2 separate regions of the Homo sapiens genome follow, and region 1 is linked to region 2. The links come from fine-mapping of genetic effects on gene expression. Tissue or cell type: monocytes. Region 2 holds a variant in brackets; the other region holds the start of a gene. All regions are shown on one strand. Distances are from middle to middle.

Evidence for each region. PIP is the estimated chance that this variant, and not a neighbour inherited with it, causes the effect.
Region 1: it holds the start of DCTN4, and the variant in region 2 is fine-mapped to the expression of DCTN4 in monocytes (TOPMed, PIP above 0.99). The same link has a PIP of 0.9 or more in blood mononuclear cells and whole blood.

Annotation. Positions count from the first base shown.
Region 1 is chr5:150,754,568-150,762,653 of GRCh38, forward strand. It overlaps DCTN4 (dynactin subunit 4), which reads right to left and starts at 4,450. Exons shown (of 13, transcript NM_016221.4): 1 at 4,292-4,450; 2 at 1,850-1,920. The coding sequence starts at 4,426. RefSeq lists enhancers at 3,726-3,795, 4,226-4,525.
Region 2 is chr5:150,705,995-150,714,093 of GRCh38, forward strand. It overlaps DCTN4 (dynactin subunit 4), which reads right to left. Exons shown (of 13, transcript NM_016221.4): 13 at 2,446-5,368. The coding sequence ends at 5,155. Among named protein-coding and RNA genes, the nearest start is that of RBM22, 9.0 kb to the left of the region's middle. The variant T/G (reference allele first, on the strand shown) is at 4,608.

The sequences.
Region 1 (8,086 bases), 49 kb after region 2:
GTAGCAATGAGCAAGCCTAGCAGCCATATCTTGGTTTCTAAGACTATTCTCCAATAAAGTGAACCAAGGCTCCTTGGAGAAACAACTCTAAGACTGAGACAGAAAATATACAAGATGAGGCTGGGCACAGCAGCTCACGCTTGTAATCCCAGCACTTTGGGCCAAGGCAGGTGAAGTGCTTGAGCCAGGAGTTCAAGACCAGCCTGGGCAACATGGCAAAAGCCTATCTCTCCAAAAAAATACAAAAATTATCCAGGTGTGGTAGCATGTGCCTAGTCTCAGCTACTCAGGAGGCTGAGGTGGAAGGACTGCTTGAGCCTGGGAGGTTGAGGTTGCAGTGAGCCAAGATTGCACCACTGCACTTCAACCTAGGCGCCAAAGTGAGACCCTGTCTCAAAAAAAAAAAAATACACACAAAACATACACACAAGATGAGTCTGGAGTATCTTGTAGTACTGGTAAGAAAATGATCAAAGTAATGAACAGAGAACTCTCTCCTGCTCCTAATGATGGGGGTATGTCAAAGGGATCTAGGAGTCAACTGAAAGAGCTCCCAATGGCCAAAGCTGAAATAATTTGAGCAAAATAAATAAAGTAGTATTGGATTACAAGCCAAAATATAAAATGAATATTCATAATCCCACTGTCCTATAAGTAAGTGATTTAAAAAACAAATAAACAAGAGGAGAAGAGACAGATCTTCCATGCAAAAGAATTCCAAATCCAAATAATTTATGCAGATAGTCCTCAAGGACAGGGGAGCATAATTCTCTAGTCTTTATGGGCTGTGACAGTAATTTTCCTTCCAAAAAGTAGAGTACAAAAAAAGAAGGAAAAGCAGTAACTTTACAGTGGAGAAACCTGACAAACACTAGCTCAAGCCAGATAATCAAGGTTAACACCAACAGTGACAAGTCATAAGTATTTACCCTTGATATGATGTAATCAAAGATGGCACTTTACCTCTGTGGTTCTCCTCCGCAAAATACATTCCCCTAGTCTGATGAGAAAAAAACATCATGCAAATCCTAATGAAATGACATTCTATAAAATACCTCACCAGTACTCCTCAATACTTTTGAGGTCATCAAAACCAAGGAAATTTTAAGATTCTCCTATCACACCACACCCAAGAGGAGTCTAGAGACATAACTATAAATATAATGTGATATCCTGAAAAGAATCCTGGAAAAAAAGGAGACCACAGAAAAACTAAGGAAATCTGAATAAAATGTAGTGTATTGGTTCATTAATTGTAACAAATATACCACACTAATGTAAAAAGTTAACAATAGGGGAGACTGGATGTGAGGTAAATGGGAACTCTCCATACTATCTTCACCATAATTCTGAAGTACAAAACTGTTCTAAAGTAGAAAATCTATTTCAAAAATCAAAGGGGATTTCATCTTTGGCAATGGTGATGCTTAAAAATGAAAAAGAGCTGGTTAAAAAAGTTAATTTCATGTGTCTTTTTTTTTTTTTTTTTTTTGAGACAAAGACTTGCTCTGTTGCCCAGGCTGGAGTGCAGTGGCACAATCTTGGCTCACTGCAATGTCTGCCTCCCAGGTTCAAGCAATTCATCTGCCTCAGCCTCCCAAGTAGCTGGGACTACAGGCGCGTGCCACCACACCTAGCTAATTTTTTGTATTTTTAGTAGAGATGGGGTTTCGCCATGTTAGCCAGGATGGTATCAACCTCTTGACCTCGTGATCCCTGCCTCCGCCTCCCAAAGTGCTGGGATTACAGGCGTGAGCCACCATGCCTGGCCCATGTGTCTTTTTAACTAGCTATTTTAGAGAACAGTCAAGGAAAATAGGAAGAAAAAAAAAATCAGTCCAGGTCTTACCTATTCTTTTTTAGTTTGGCTTCAGCCGATGGCATATTTTCTAAACAACTGGGACAATAATGGGAGTCCACCTAGGAGGAAACAAGAAAGAAAAAAAAAACCAGAGGAGAACTCAGTTTAACTTGTGTATATGTCTTGTCAAATAGTGAATTTTAAAATATGTTATACTGTAGCAGAAAGTAGACTGTTTTCTGCTTAGGGTTTATTCTTCTTCAGTCACCTGTTTTTTTTTTTTCTTCTTCTTCCGGATTTAAAAAATCCTTCTATTTTTCTGATCTTTCCTATTCCATCATCAGGGTTTTATGTGTTAAAAGTTGTTTATTTAACAATCTACAATTTCCAGTTGAACTCCATAGAATTCTATGATTAATAAAGAGATTAATAAAATAATCCAATTTGTAACATTGTGATAAAATATCCTCCTGTCTAGGCTAGCTTTATATGACTATAAAACTTGACCATACTTTTAGGTTTTGAAGGACATTTTTTTAAAGATTTCTCATTATTGAAGTAATACAGGTTGACTGAAGGCAAGCATAAATATTTATTTACATAGTCAGCTATGGCCAACCAATTAGAGATTTTTAAACAAATTAATGGGACAGTCTTATTGTACTTAAAAAACTGGAGTCTAAAATTTAAGTTCATTTTATTTTTTAAAAGTCTGAATAATTATTTTCTTTAATGTAGGTCCTATTTGACAATTATAGAACTCTAGTCACCTGCAAATGAAAAGACAATCACTGGAACATAAATACTATGATAGAAACTGGCTTTTTTCATCATCTGCTATAAACAGGTCAATTTGAAAAGATTAATAAAGTTGTTGCTCAAATAATCTCCAGGAACATAAAATACAATATTGCTAACTAACCTCTGCACTGACTCATCAAAAAAGGCAAAATACAAGTCATTCCTTTTTGCCCCCTTTCCAAATTCTGCTTGTCCGTTCATGTGCAGCTCCAGACCCAGATTCTCCATTAGAACTTCACTGCCTGCCCCAGCCCTCAGAGCTTCATCTTTCCCTAAACTCTAATGGCCTCCATATCACAGGTACACATCAGGCTGTAAAAGATGCTGTCACAGACTGGATGTCCTAATTGAAGAGAGTCTTAGAGACAGATCATGGAGACTGAGCACTCTATTCACCACAGGAGAATATGATCCAATAAATTCTGGAGGTGGAGCTGGAATAGGGAATCATCAAGGAGATACACATAAGGAAAGTGCTAATGGAGATGAGAAGAAAAATCGATGCCATATTTTTAATATATACGATTTTTCTTGTATTATTTAATTGCTTTTCTTGACTATTCCTATTATGAAAAGTATCTTCAATAAAATAAGTTATTAATAACACATAAAATGGCTTATAGTATGTGTTTTCATATGCATTTATTTTAACAGTCCCGGGATCTTCAGTAAAAAACACTCTGAGTTAGGCTGTTTAGATTCAAATCCAGGTCCTCCTTCCCACCCCCAAATTACTGGCTGTGTGACTTACAGCGAACACTCTGTATCTGTTTCTTTACCTGTAAAAAAAATTTTTTAAAAAAAGTATCCACTTAAATTGGTTTGAAGATTACATAAAGCACATGACATATAGCAAGTATCGAATAAGCAGCAACTATTACTACTATCAGCTTTTTCTTCACTAAGACTATGGCTTATTAAACAGCGCATTTTATGTCTTACTCGCCTTTTAATCCCTAAAGCTTACTGAATAAACAAGATGTGCCAAGCGCTGCAGAAGTTTTGGGGTTTTGTTATTTGGTGACTTTTTACTGGCCGGGGTCTTCTTTTTGAAAAATCCAACTTCGGACGCCCACTTGTGCCAGGGAAGGACAGCATTGTCCTCTAGCTCCATAAATACACTTTCAGCTTCTTACATGACATACTGTATTCTGAGCGCTTTTCACATAACTCACGCCGCCCCAACCTCTTCCCGGCTGCAGGCCTTGGCCTGAGTCAGGAACAGGGCAAGGCAGTCTGACGAGGGCCCAGTTTCTGGACAAAAGAGGAACAGAACTTTCAGGATGGGAGAACTATGAATGAGAACGCCTGCGCCTCCCTCCATCCTCGCAATAAATCCTGGAAAGGCAGTTTTTCGCCCCTTAAGTGGCCTGAACTAAGCACCCCCAGACCTTTCTCCGTAGTCCACCCAATTACCAAGCCCCATCGCAGACAGACACGGTCCCTAAGTCAAGTTTGTCCAATCAGAGGCCGCTCTAGAACCAGAAGATCCGCTCAGTCCCACCCGAGGCTGCTCCTCCTTTCCAAGTGACAGATTAGAAGCAAATTAAATCGCAGGCAAACCCGAGTGACGGAAGACATAACCAATCAGTAAGGAAGGAAAATAGCTCCAGCCTTCCGGTGGCAGTGACTAGCATGAACGCCGCGCCCCCCCCACCCCACATACTCGCTATAGGGCGACTCTGTTACCTCGTGAGACACACATTCCAGCGACCGCAGTTCGCTACAATAGCGGCAGAAGTAGAGTTGCGAGAGCGGGGCCCGAACCTTCTTTTCTCCCTGGACTAGATAGAGAACCCGGTCCGACTGCAGCAAGGACGCCATCTTGGGGAGGGAGGAGGCGATGACGCTCCCGGCGCATCACGTGACCCGAGAGCCAGCGTCTTCCTCGCTGCCTTCCCTACGACTTCCTACGTAGACTTTGACGTTAGGTTTCCCACCTCGTCCGGCTCTGCGCCCGTCGAAAACCAGAGCGCGCGTGCGCAGCTGGGATCCCTGTTTTCTCCCCAACTCTGGGCCCGTCCCCCAGCGCTTTTGTGAGCGTCCACTGCCCTTACTGCCATTAGGTCTGGACTCAGTGAGCTCCTTTTATTCTTTTCTTCCAGAATGGAAGCCTGATCTTTTGTCTTATTTACGACGGCCTCCTCTGCCCCACTTAACAGGCGAGCATCCAGGAGACAAATGGAAGGTCTCAAAGGGACAGGGCTCCGTGGGGACTGCAAGACAGGAGTCACACCAGCACTGTCTTCTGAGTCTTGCCAATGGCCTTTGGGAACTTTCACATACATTATCTCATTTGAAACGCAGGTTTTTGAGTACATAGTTAGCGTTAGGTCTAAGTCTGTATTGTGGACCTTCAATAAGTATGAAAAGGAGGGAATGAAATCAATGAATGAACAATGTTGGTAGGCGTCTACGTTTTTCTAATGTGTAAACTAAGGCTCAGGTCTGCCTCTTGGGTGAGCAGCGACTACGTGAGACTGGTATTACATGGGTGGGAAAATAATTTATCAACAGTTTTAGGTAAAGAAATGCAGATTTATTAGAGAAGGTATGAAAATACGTTGAAAGGTTGCAATGGGCAGACCAGCCAGAGAGGAGCTGACTTCAAGGAAACAAAGGCTTGCTGGAGATTTTATCCGATGGTTCTTGGGCTGCAGAGTGCTGTGCAGTACCGAGAACTCCAAGGTTACAGGGAGCTAACTTGCATGTGTCTCGTGATAGCTGAGTGCAGGAAGATTGTGAGTTATTTGCACAGGAGGGCTACGTGTCCTGCACCATGAAGAAAGGCAGACTTAGAGTGCATCTGCTCTTCTTGCTATCCCTTGGTCCCACTAGCCTGACTCCCTTTCTCTAACTGGGACTCCCCAGTATGTAAAATGACCACCTAGAACTGCCTAGCAGAAACTGGAGCCTCTGTTGCCTGCCACCAGGTCTACATTTTTATAATTGTAGTAGTGTTGTATTATTACCTGTCTGACGTTAGAGTTGGTGATTGAGAAGAAAGGGAACTGAATACTATTAGCAAACATTTATTGAGCACTTATTAAGTGCAGCACACTGTGTCAAAACTTTACATACATTGTCTAATTTAATTCTTACAACAGCTCCAAAAAGCATGTGGCTATCATTATTTCTATTTTACAGAGCAGGAAACTGAGGCACAGGGAAGTGCAGTGACTCCTCTATAAGGTTTCATAGATGGAGGTAGAACCCTTTTCTCTCTGACTCTAGTGCTTGCAGGTATAACCCCTATGTATACTCCCTCCAGCATATTTTCTAATATGGTGATGTTAATAATACCTTACATTTATATAGACCTTTTCAGCTTATACAGTGCTAATCTCACAATTTATGTCACGCTTTACCAATTGAGCCTAAAAGTCATTACTTGTTCACCAAGCAATAGCCTGGCACTAATTTAGTTTCATAGGTGACATCTGCTCCTAGGAGAGAATATATTACTAGCCAACTCATTTGCAATTATTTCTTTAGGTTAATGAATTCGTTGGTTTTCTGGTTTATAAACTAGTCTCTACTGAGTTTAAATTCCCTTTTCTGGACTATGCTGTTAAAATGAAGTCCCAGAGCCTGCAGGTACAGAAAGGCTGGAGACTTGAGCTGAATCCACATAAAACAGACACTTTTTAGAGCACTGATTTTAAATAATTAAGTGGCCAATTATCTTGTCCCTGCTACATGCCAGGTACTGGGGAGGGAACTAGCGATAAATGAGATACTTTCCATCCTCAAAGGCTCAGGGTTCTAGCAGGATCGAGTCCTAGTTATGCACAATGGTGACCAGCTTGATAATGTAGCCTTGTGTTGCTTTTTCACTCTACCCAGCCCTGGACTCACCCTCATTCACTTCTCAATCCTGGCTTCCTGCCTGCAGAATCTCATTTTGAGCTCTGCTTTCTAGGGGGAACTCAGGCTAATACAGAGACCCTAAAGTTGAACTGGCAGATCAAAGGATATCCACATTTAATAAATACTGGCAATAAGCCCTTGTGAAATTCTAGGCCAATTTACACTCTCACTATAAGTGTATGAGCTATCCATTTCCCACTGTTTTGCCCACCTGGCATATTATCAAATTTGAGTGGATACTTTTGGCACTTTCTAGCTATGTGATCTTGAAAAAGACATTTACACCTCAGAGTCTTGTTTCAAGACACATAGAATGAGAAGAATAATCCCTGCCTTGGTGAAAATAAAAAATCATCCAGGCTGTGAAAGCATTTTGTAAGGTATGAAGTACTAAGCACATGGAAGAAATGCTCCCTAAATATCCCAAGTATGAAAAACCCAAAGTGGTTTTCATTTTTATAAAGAGTCCTTCAGAGTAAATCCACAATAATAATGGAAAAAACTGGAAGTTAGTCAGACTTTGGTCAAATGAGGTCTTGTGAAGGGGACCGAATCTGGGCTCTGACCTCAAAGACTTAGGGTTTTCTACAGCTTAGGAATCTGGGGAACTGCTCTCACCAATGCTGGCCACCTGCCCTGGCTGCCTTCCCCACTTTTGCTTTCCTACTTGAAAACTATATTAATTATAGGGTTTCCTGTGTTGAATCTATTTACAGGCTAATCTAAAAGTCATAGTAAGTGAATAGAGGAGGAAGAAAAAAGAAGTCCCTGTTTCATCAATATCCATGCTAGCCCCTGTGGGGGCCCTTACTGCCCAGGAAATGTGGTGGTGGCAGGGCTAAAGCTAATTTCCCAAGTGTAAACATGGCAAAAGACTGCTGGCCTGCCTTTATTCTGGGAAATCTTTTGAATTGTTTTTGCTTTTGAATTGAACTGAACTTTGAATTTTTCTTTCCTTTTTTTTTTTTTTTTTGAGACGGAGTCTCACTCTATCGCCCAGGCTGGAGTGCAGTGGCACAATCTCAGCTCACTGCAAGCTCCGCCTCCTGGGTTCATGCCATTCTCCTGCCTCAGCCTCCCAAGTAGCTGGGACTACAGGTGCCCGCCACCACGGCCGGCTAATTTTTTTGTATTTTTAGTAGAGATGGGTTTTCACCGTGTTAGCCAAGATGGTCTGGATCTCCTGACCTCATGATCTGCCCTCCTCAGCCCCGCAAAGTGCTGGGATTATAGGCATGAGCCACCACGCCTGGCCCACTAAAACCACTTTTTATGAGAAGTGCACAGATGGGCCTACAGAAGATTCAGAAGCCTGACTAAAATTTGGCCAAACAGAGACTGTTTCTCACCCTCCCTCTTGCACAATTCACCACCCAACCCCGAGGCTTGCTTCTAGGAGAGCACCAGTGTATTGCTCACTGAATTGAGCAAAGTGGAATTAAAGACTGAATTCCTGCCTAACTCAGTGCCTGGCACAGAGCAAGCCCTCGGTTAGTATTTGTCGAGTGGATGAACACTATTTTAAACCATCTGGAACTTGCTGCCATATGGAAGCTGGCAACTAAAAAAATTTTTTTTTTCTTTTTCACCTTTAAGCAGTTGCTTCTTTTAGAA
Region 2 (8,099 bases):
TGGAGTTTTGCTTTTGTTGCCTACACTGGAGTGCAATAGTGCGATCTTGGCTCACCACAACCTCCAGCTCCTGGGTTCAAGCGATTCTCCAGCTTCAGCCTCCTGAGTAGCTGGGATTACAGGCATGCAACACCACACCCGACTAATTTTATATTTTTAGTAGACATGGGGTTTCTCCATGTTGGTCAGGCTGGTCTCAAACTCCTGACCTCAGGTGATCCACCTGCCTCAGCCTCCCAAAGTGCTGAGATTACAGGCTTGAGCCACCGCACCTGACCTGGGCTTGGGTTTTATTGCTATGGTTGCTTTCAATGTACCACAGATTTCACCTACTCTAGCATTATTCTATACTGTAGGTTGGGGCTGAAGAACTCAAGTGTTCATGCTTCATCCTCAGCTTACAGCTGTCCTGCCTACCTGCACAGTGGTGACTAACTTTCTAGGCCTTTGCCCATCCCCTAGAAATGGATGCTTGTTACTAGCTGCTTGGTAGGCTGGTAGCGGGGTAGAAGTAAAGGGGTTCTCTGTTGTTCTAATTCAATTCAGCCTCAGTCCTCAGCAGGCCCTGTGTGGGCCTTAGGAATAGATCTTTTCTCGGCATTCTTGCCCCCCAAAACTGGGCAAGTTCATTAAATGAGTGTAAAGAGGAAAGAAGTGTGAGAAATGAGATTTGGTATACTGCAAGGTTGGGAAGATGGGAAAGAACTAGCAAAGAATACGGAAGGAAACTTTCTAGCAGGGTAGACAGAAAATTGTTACTGAATTAAACTGGGGTCTGCTCACCCAGTGCCACAAAGCCATTGACATCAGGCTAGTAGCAAGAGAAAGTGAGGCATTTTATTGCAGGGCACCATGCAAGGAGAATTGCACAGATCATGCTTAAGACCCGAACTCCCAGATGGCTTAAAGCTACGGGTTTTTAAAGGCAGGGAAAGAGAGGTTACAGGCAAAGTCATAAATCAATACATAGAGGCTATACATTGGTTTGACCTAAAAAGGTGGGACATCTCAAAGCTGGGATGGGGGTGGACTCAAAGGTCATAGGTGGTTTCAAAGATTTTTTGATTTATGATTAAGGCGGTGAAGCTGTCTAAACTTGGGATCCACAGAAAAGAATGTTAGCTCTGGCCGGTGGACATGACTTCCTCCAGGCCCCTCAGGAAGCAACTTAGAACAATGAACAGTGGTCAGAGTTCAGTTCTCAGTTTCCCCTTATCTGAGGTTTAAAGCTGGTGAGAGTTCAGGTTTCTGAAAAGTTGGGGACATGTATGTTACCCTTAGTTTCTATAGGGAACAAAACATCTCACTCTGACTTCCTTGGCTATTGTGTTCAGCTACTTCTTGCTTATCAGGTTGCTCATTAACTTCTTTGGGCTAGCTAGGTGCCTAGAATTCCCTTGAAGGAACTCAAGATTTCCCTTTATTTCCATGCATGGAGGGGCCCACAAGCCTCCTAAAAGGGGGTCCCTGCTCTGCCTCAAAACCAGGAGTGTTGTGTTCTGGAAACCAAGCAAAGCCTTTCAAGAAGGGAGAGATAAACTGTCAGATCTACTGAAAAATTGCATAGTTAAGGACTGAGAACTGACCCTGTATTTAAGTGTGGTGATTGCTGGTGACCTTGACAAGAGCAGTTTCGACCAAGTGGTGGCGGTGAGAGTCTAACTGGAATGGGTTCAGGTGAGAATGGAGGAACTGGAAGGTTGAATTAGGGTTTTTTTTTTTTTTTTTCCCTTGAGACGGAGTCTCGCTCTGCTGCCCAGGCTGGAGTGCCGTGGCGTGATCTTGGCTCACTGCAAGCTCCGCCTCCCAGGTTCACGCCATTCTCCTGCCTCAGCCTCGAGAGTAGCTGGGACTACAGGCACCTGCCACCAGGCCCGGCTAATTTTTTTTATTATTTTTAGTAGAGACGGGATTTCACCTTGTTAGCCAGGATGGTCTCGATCTCCTGACCTCGTGATCTGCCCGCCTCAGCCTCCCAAAGTGCTGGGATTACAGGTGTGAGCCACCGCACCTGGCCATTTTTGTTTTTTAAAAAACTTTTACTTAAACAGAGACAAGGTCTTGTTAGGTTTTCCAGTCTTGTCTCAAACTCCTGGCCTCAAATCATCCTCTCACCTCGGCCTCCTAAAGCGCTGGGATTACAGGTGTGAGCGATCATGCCCAGTCAGAGTTAGAGGAGTTTTGCTGTACAGGGAGTGGAGAAATGGAGTGGCAGCTGAAGAGGAGAGTGAGGCCAATTTCTTTTTTAAGATGAGAGAAATCACATGCTAATGGAAAAGGGAAGGAGGGAGCTGCCGATGCTATCTGTGAATAGGTAAGAGGATGAGCTTCAGTGTTAAGAGGTGGGGCTGGGTTCCAACAGGAAGAGTATGAATAATTCATCTAAGTAAGAGGAGGGAAGGAACAGTTATGAAGGTACAGATGAAGGTGATGAGTGGCCACTGGTGGAGTCAGACCACTGTGTATATTGTAAAGGATATCTTTAGAAGCAATGACCCAGGATAAAAACTGGTAGAGGTCTAACAACATTTATATAATGGTTCTGTGAATATGTATATAAGAAGCTCAAAGCAACATCTACTTATATATTATGGTGAACTAACCTGCTAAGAGATTTTAGATTACTTCATTTAAGGAATGGAAGGGAGCATGCCCCACCAACTCTCTTAGCCAACTCTCTTAACTTCACGCTTGTCTTTTGGCTCTGAGCCATGCTACTTAGTATCTACATGAGAGCAAACAAAAGACACGCTCAAGCTTTGTCTGCTTTATTTCACTACATTAAGTTAAGCAATAAGGCAAAACAGTAACCTGTCATTCATAAAGATCAAGGAGTACCTCTCTGTCCCAAAAGGGACCAAAAAGGGTGTTTCTTCACAAATATGCATGACACTTAGCTCATTATGCTGATAAGCACTTCAAACAAAAGAAAAGGTCAGTAGGTGAATCAAGTAACAAATCCAAATTAACTTAGCCTAAGTTTCCAAAGCTGTAGTTTCAAGTGCTAATGGGATCTAACTTTCCTGTGGTGGTGCATACTGACTAGCATTAAAATTTTTGCACCTCATCTAATATAAAAAAGGCAACAAATACAATTCCTAATTCACCAGCTGCAGGTATTGAATCATTTCTACGAACACACAGAATACTAGCTTACACTAAAACCTATCTTGAGGAAACATTAAACCAGTGGCTCTATTATTCTGCAAGTTAGTTTGGCTTCTGAAGAAAAAAGTTTATGATCAAAGTGTTTTGTGTTTCTGTGTATGGGAATGATGAGACCCATACTTCAACATTATTACTTTGGGGAATAAATACCAGCTACCTGCCATAAACGCATGACATGTGTGTAGTCTATGCAAACGTGTAAACATATGAAGCTATTCTCTACTCTATGCCCATTTCCTCCACTGGCAAATATGGAGCAGTGATTTCACAGTAGGCTCTAGCAGGTAGTGAAATAAAAATTTGAGACTCTGTGGGGTCACAAAAAAATGAAACTCTTTCTATAGTCTGCAAATCTGTAATTACCCATCCCCCTGCTCCAACTCCTAAGAGGCTAAATGTTATTACCATAATGTTAGAGATGAGTATTTTCCTTCTTACACTGCATCACATATATTACTCTGTAGGACTGTTTCATAAAATTGGCTTGACCTTTGTACAATTAGTACAATTTAGTGTCTTTTAGAGTACAATTTAGTGTCTTTTAAAAGCTTCCTAAATATTTAAAACATTTTCAAGGGAAGCTTACAAGGACTATGTCCCATCTGTATTCTACATTATAATGTTATCTTTAATTTTTTAAGACTTAAAACAAGACCAAGGTAAACAAAAAATCTGTATTTTCCTCAAGTCTCTTGGCCACTTACTAACAATACTTTTACAGAAAACACGGTGCAGCTGGTGGTCTACTTTATCAAGTTTCATTTTAGAAAACATCATAGAAATTAAGGTTAGCAACCCAACTCCAGGATACCAAGTGAAAACAGCAAGTCTGCTGTTAGGCCAGAACTGTGGGCTACTTGCTGAACTATTTTATGGTTTACAATCAAAATGGTCTTATTTGACTCACCACATGACAAAAGTCTTAAACTTAGTAAGGGGGAAAGTTCTTAATATCCAGTTTTGGATTCAAGAGATTATAATAGTTAATTTCCCCTTCAAATCAATGGAAAGAATGCTAGTTGAGAATATTCTAAAAATCTAGCCTTTAAAATGTTTTCTGCATTCCAGAAATGAACCTGTCCACTCAGGTTTTCTTTGGGTTCTTTTCCAGGTCCCAAACAGAACAACTTAACTGAGTTAAAGAGGCAGAACAGGGAAGGGGTAGGAAGTAAGACAAATAAAGATTGCCCCCCTGTGGCAGCATTAATCCCTGGGTATTGTGGCAATATTGAAAACGAATGGAATCTGCTACCCCCTTGACATGACATGTAATTGTTTGCTTCTCAAATTCTTCTTAAAAGATCCATATTTTACTGGGAAAAAAATTAAGAACAACTAATACGTGTCCTGTATTCACTTAGAAAAAGAGGGCAAATGAGAGTGCCTTAACAACTTCACAGGTTTTTCCAATCATCATGATACTAAAGATAAAGTGACAA[T/G]TCAGTTTTTCAGTTATATGGAAATCTATGGCAAAATGGCAGCCATTATGGCAATGAAGGGATATGTTTTAGACTGTTAGATGATATTTAACGGAATGCAGAAAGCAGTTGGTACATTGTGACCAATGCTGGATCATTAACAGCAGGTCTACCTTTGGGTTATCATTTAAGTTTCATCTGTGACATTGTGATCCTTAGTGAGATCAGATCAAGAGACAGTACAGAGTTTCTCAGGTGGTAAATACAATGCCATTCCAAGGAACACCCATCCCCTTTCCTAGGATGGAATTATGCTGCTGTTACTCAACGTGCAGGGTTCAGTGAGGGAGACACAGACTTACTGGTGTCAACAGGGGTGAGAGCAAGAGCAACAGCAGCTACCCTGTGTTCCCAATGCCTTGCCTATGCTCCCACTTTCTTAGCAATAGAATTCCGTAGTGCATGGGTACATCGTTATAAACAAGGCCTAATGAAGCAGCAGCTTCCACATTTTAACGCAGGTTTACGGTGATACTGTCCTTTGGGATCTGCCCTCCAGTGGAACCTTTTAAGGAAGAAGTGGGCCCAAGCTAAGTTCCACATGCTGGGTGAGCCAGATGACTTCTGTTCCCTGGTCACTTTCTTCAATGGGGCGAATGGGGGCTGCCAGGTTTTTAAAATCATGCTTCATCTTGAAGCACACGGTCACTTCACCCTCCTCACGCTGTGGTGTAACTTTGATGAAAATACCCACTTTGTTGGCCTTTCTGAAGGCTATAATGCTATGGAAAGAAAAAAAAGCAAGTATTAGGTAGATAAAAAAATCAGCCAAACCACTAAGACTTACAGTAAAAGTCTTTCACCTTATTCTTTCCTTCAGCACACACAGAAAACCTATAAACACTTTGTTCTTAACCTACCAAGTATTTTTTTGTTTTGTTTTGAGACACAGTCTCGCTCTGTCGCCCAGGCTGGAGTGCAATGGCTCCACCTTGGGTCACTGCAACCTCTGTTTCACGGGCTCAAGTAACTCTCCCATCTCAGCCTCCCGAGTAGCTGGGACTACAGGCATGCACCACCACACCTGGCTAGCTTTATATATTAATACGTATATTTTTTGGTGGAGATGGGGTTTCGCCACGTTGCCCAGGCTGGTCTCGAACACCAGGGCTCAGGTGATCTGCTTGCCTTGGCCTCCAAAAGTGCTGGGATTACGGGCATAAGCCAACACGTTGGCCATATATTTTTCTATGAGCTTATACTTTTCTGCTTTTCTAACCAACACAGATGGTACACACTATTCCATAACTTGCTTTTTTTTAACTCTGTTTATCACAAACACCTTTTGACGCTGGTATATACAGATCATCTACAATCTATGTAATGGTTGCACAGTATTCAATTATGTGTTTACCATAATTGGCATATACTGAGGTTGCTGACAACTTTTCTCTATTATAAACAATGGTGCTGCAAACATCCCTTTACATTTACCTCTGTGCAAATGCAATATTTCTATAGAACATAGACTCATACCGTGGAAAGTTATTTATTTATTTATTTTTTTGAGATGGAGTCTCGCTCTGTCACCCAGGCTGGAGTGCAGTGGCGCAATCTTGGCTCACCGCAACCTCCGCCTCCTGGGTTCCAGCGATTCTCCTGCCTCGGCCTCCTGAGTAGCTGGGATTACAGGTGCACACCATCACGCCCAGCTAATTTTTATAATTTTAGTAGAGATGGGGTTTCACCACATTGGTCAGACTGGTCTCGAACTCCTGATCTCAGGTGATCCACCCGCCTCAGCCTCCCAAAGTGCTGGGATCACAAGCATAAGCCAATGCACCCGGCCTTATTTTTATTTTTTAGAGACAAGGTTTTGCTCTGTTACCCAGGCTGGAGAGCAGTGGCACGATCATAGTTCATGGTAGCCTTGACCTCCTAAGCTCAAATGATCCTTCTGCCTTGGCCTCCCAAAGTGCTGGGATTATAGGCATGAGCCACCATGCCTGGCCATACTGTGGGAAGTTTTAATAACTCAGTGCTTTAAGGGAAATTTTGGAACACCATAAATCAAGAATGTTTTTGTAAATAACTTATGTAATTAGGAATTTTAGCACAAAAATGTCTCTTCATTGAGGTTTGCATTTCAATTTCCCCTCATTTGTGCATACAGTTTGTGCTTTAATAACTTAGTTTCTGAAAGTAAAAGGGCAATGAAATAAACAGAATTTGTCTACTACCCAAATGACATTCAGTTACTCTAAGAAAGGTTACTGGGATTACATATTTACATATTTATACAGTGTTAGTTTCCAGAAATCTGAAAGTTCTATTAAATCTAATAATGTAAAATATAATTAATTCAGTTTTTAATTACTCTATCATGTAATCAGGCTGAAATCTGATATCTCAGACAATCATTCCAGAAGTATATCTTGGCTTAACAAATTTCTGTACCTAATTAATTTGAGGACCCACATAAAGCAAGGATTTGAGAGAACACATTTTGTACTGTACAACTCAGCACATTTTGTATTACAGTAACTAACCAGACCTTTGATTTGTATGAGTCATGTAAAAAATAATTCAAACAGTTTAAAATGGTAAAAAGAAAAACATCAGTCTTTCTTTTTATCCTTAATTTCCCAGGCAACCACTGATACCTGGGAAGCTTTTCCAAAACAAATTTGGATTTCTGGTCCCTAGCTAGACCTGCTAAAAAAAATCCTCTGGGGTTAGGGTCTGGAATGCTATCGAACAACAAAACAAAACAACACTTGACCTGGTGCTTTCTGAAGTTAACCCACGTTTGGTATCACTAAACTAATCTCACCTTTGCCTTCACTTTATTTTTCTTTTCTTTTCTTTTTTTTTTTTTTTTGAGACGGAGTCTGGCTCTGTTGCCCAGGCTGGAGTGTAGTGGCGTGATCTGAGTTCACTGCAACCCCCGCCCCTAGGGTTCAAGTGATTCTCCCATCTCAGCCTCCCAAGAAGCTGGGATTACAGGCACGTGCCACCACGCCTGGCTAATTTTTGTATTTTTAGTAGAGACAGGATTTCGCCATGTTGGCCAGGCTGGTCTCAAACTCCTGACCTCAAGTGATCTGCCTGCCTCAGCCTCCCAAAGTGCTGGGATTACAGGCATCAGCCACCACACCTGGCTTCACTTTATTTTTCTAACCCACCTTGTTATCTCTTCTCTCTAATATCTTGTTGAGAAAGCTTTTGATCATTCTGTCAAAAAACCGTAAATGGGCCAGGCATGGTGGCTCACGCCTGTAATCCCAGCACTTTGGGAGACCAAGTCGGGTGGATCACTTTAGGTCAGGAGTTCAAGACCAGCCTGGGCAACATGGCAAAACCCCATCTCTACTAAAAATACAAAAATTGGCCAGGCGTGGTGGCGCTTGCCTGTAATACAAGCTCCTCAGGAGGCTGAGGCAGGAGAACTGCTTGAACTCGGGAGGTGGAGGTTGCAGTGAGCAGGAGATCACGCCATTGCACTCCAGCCTG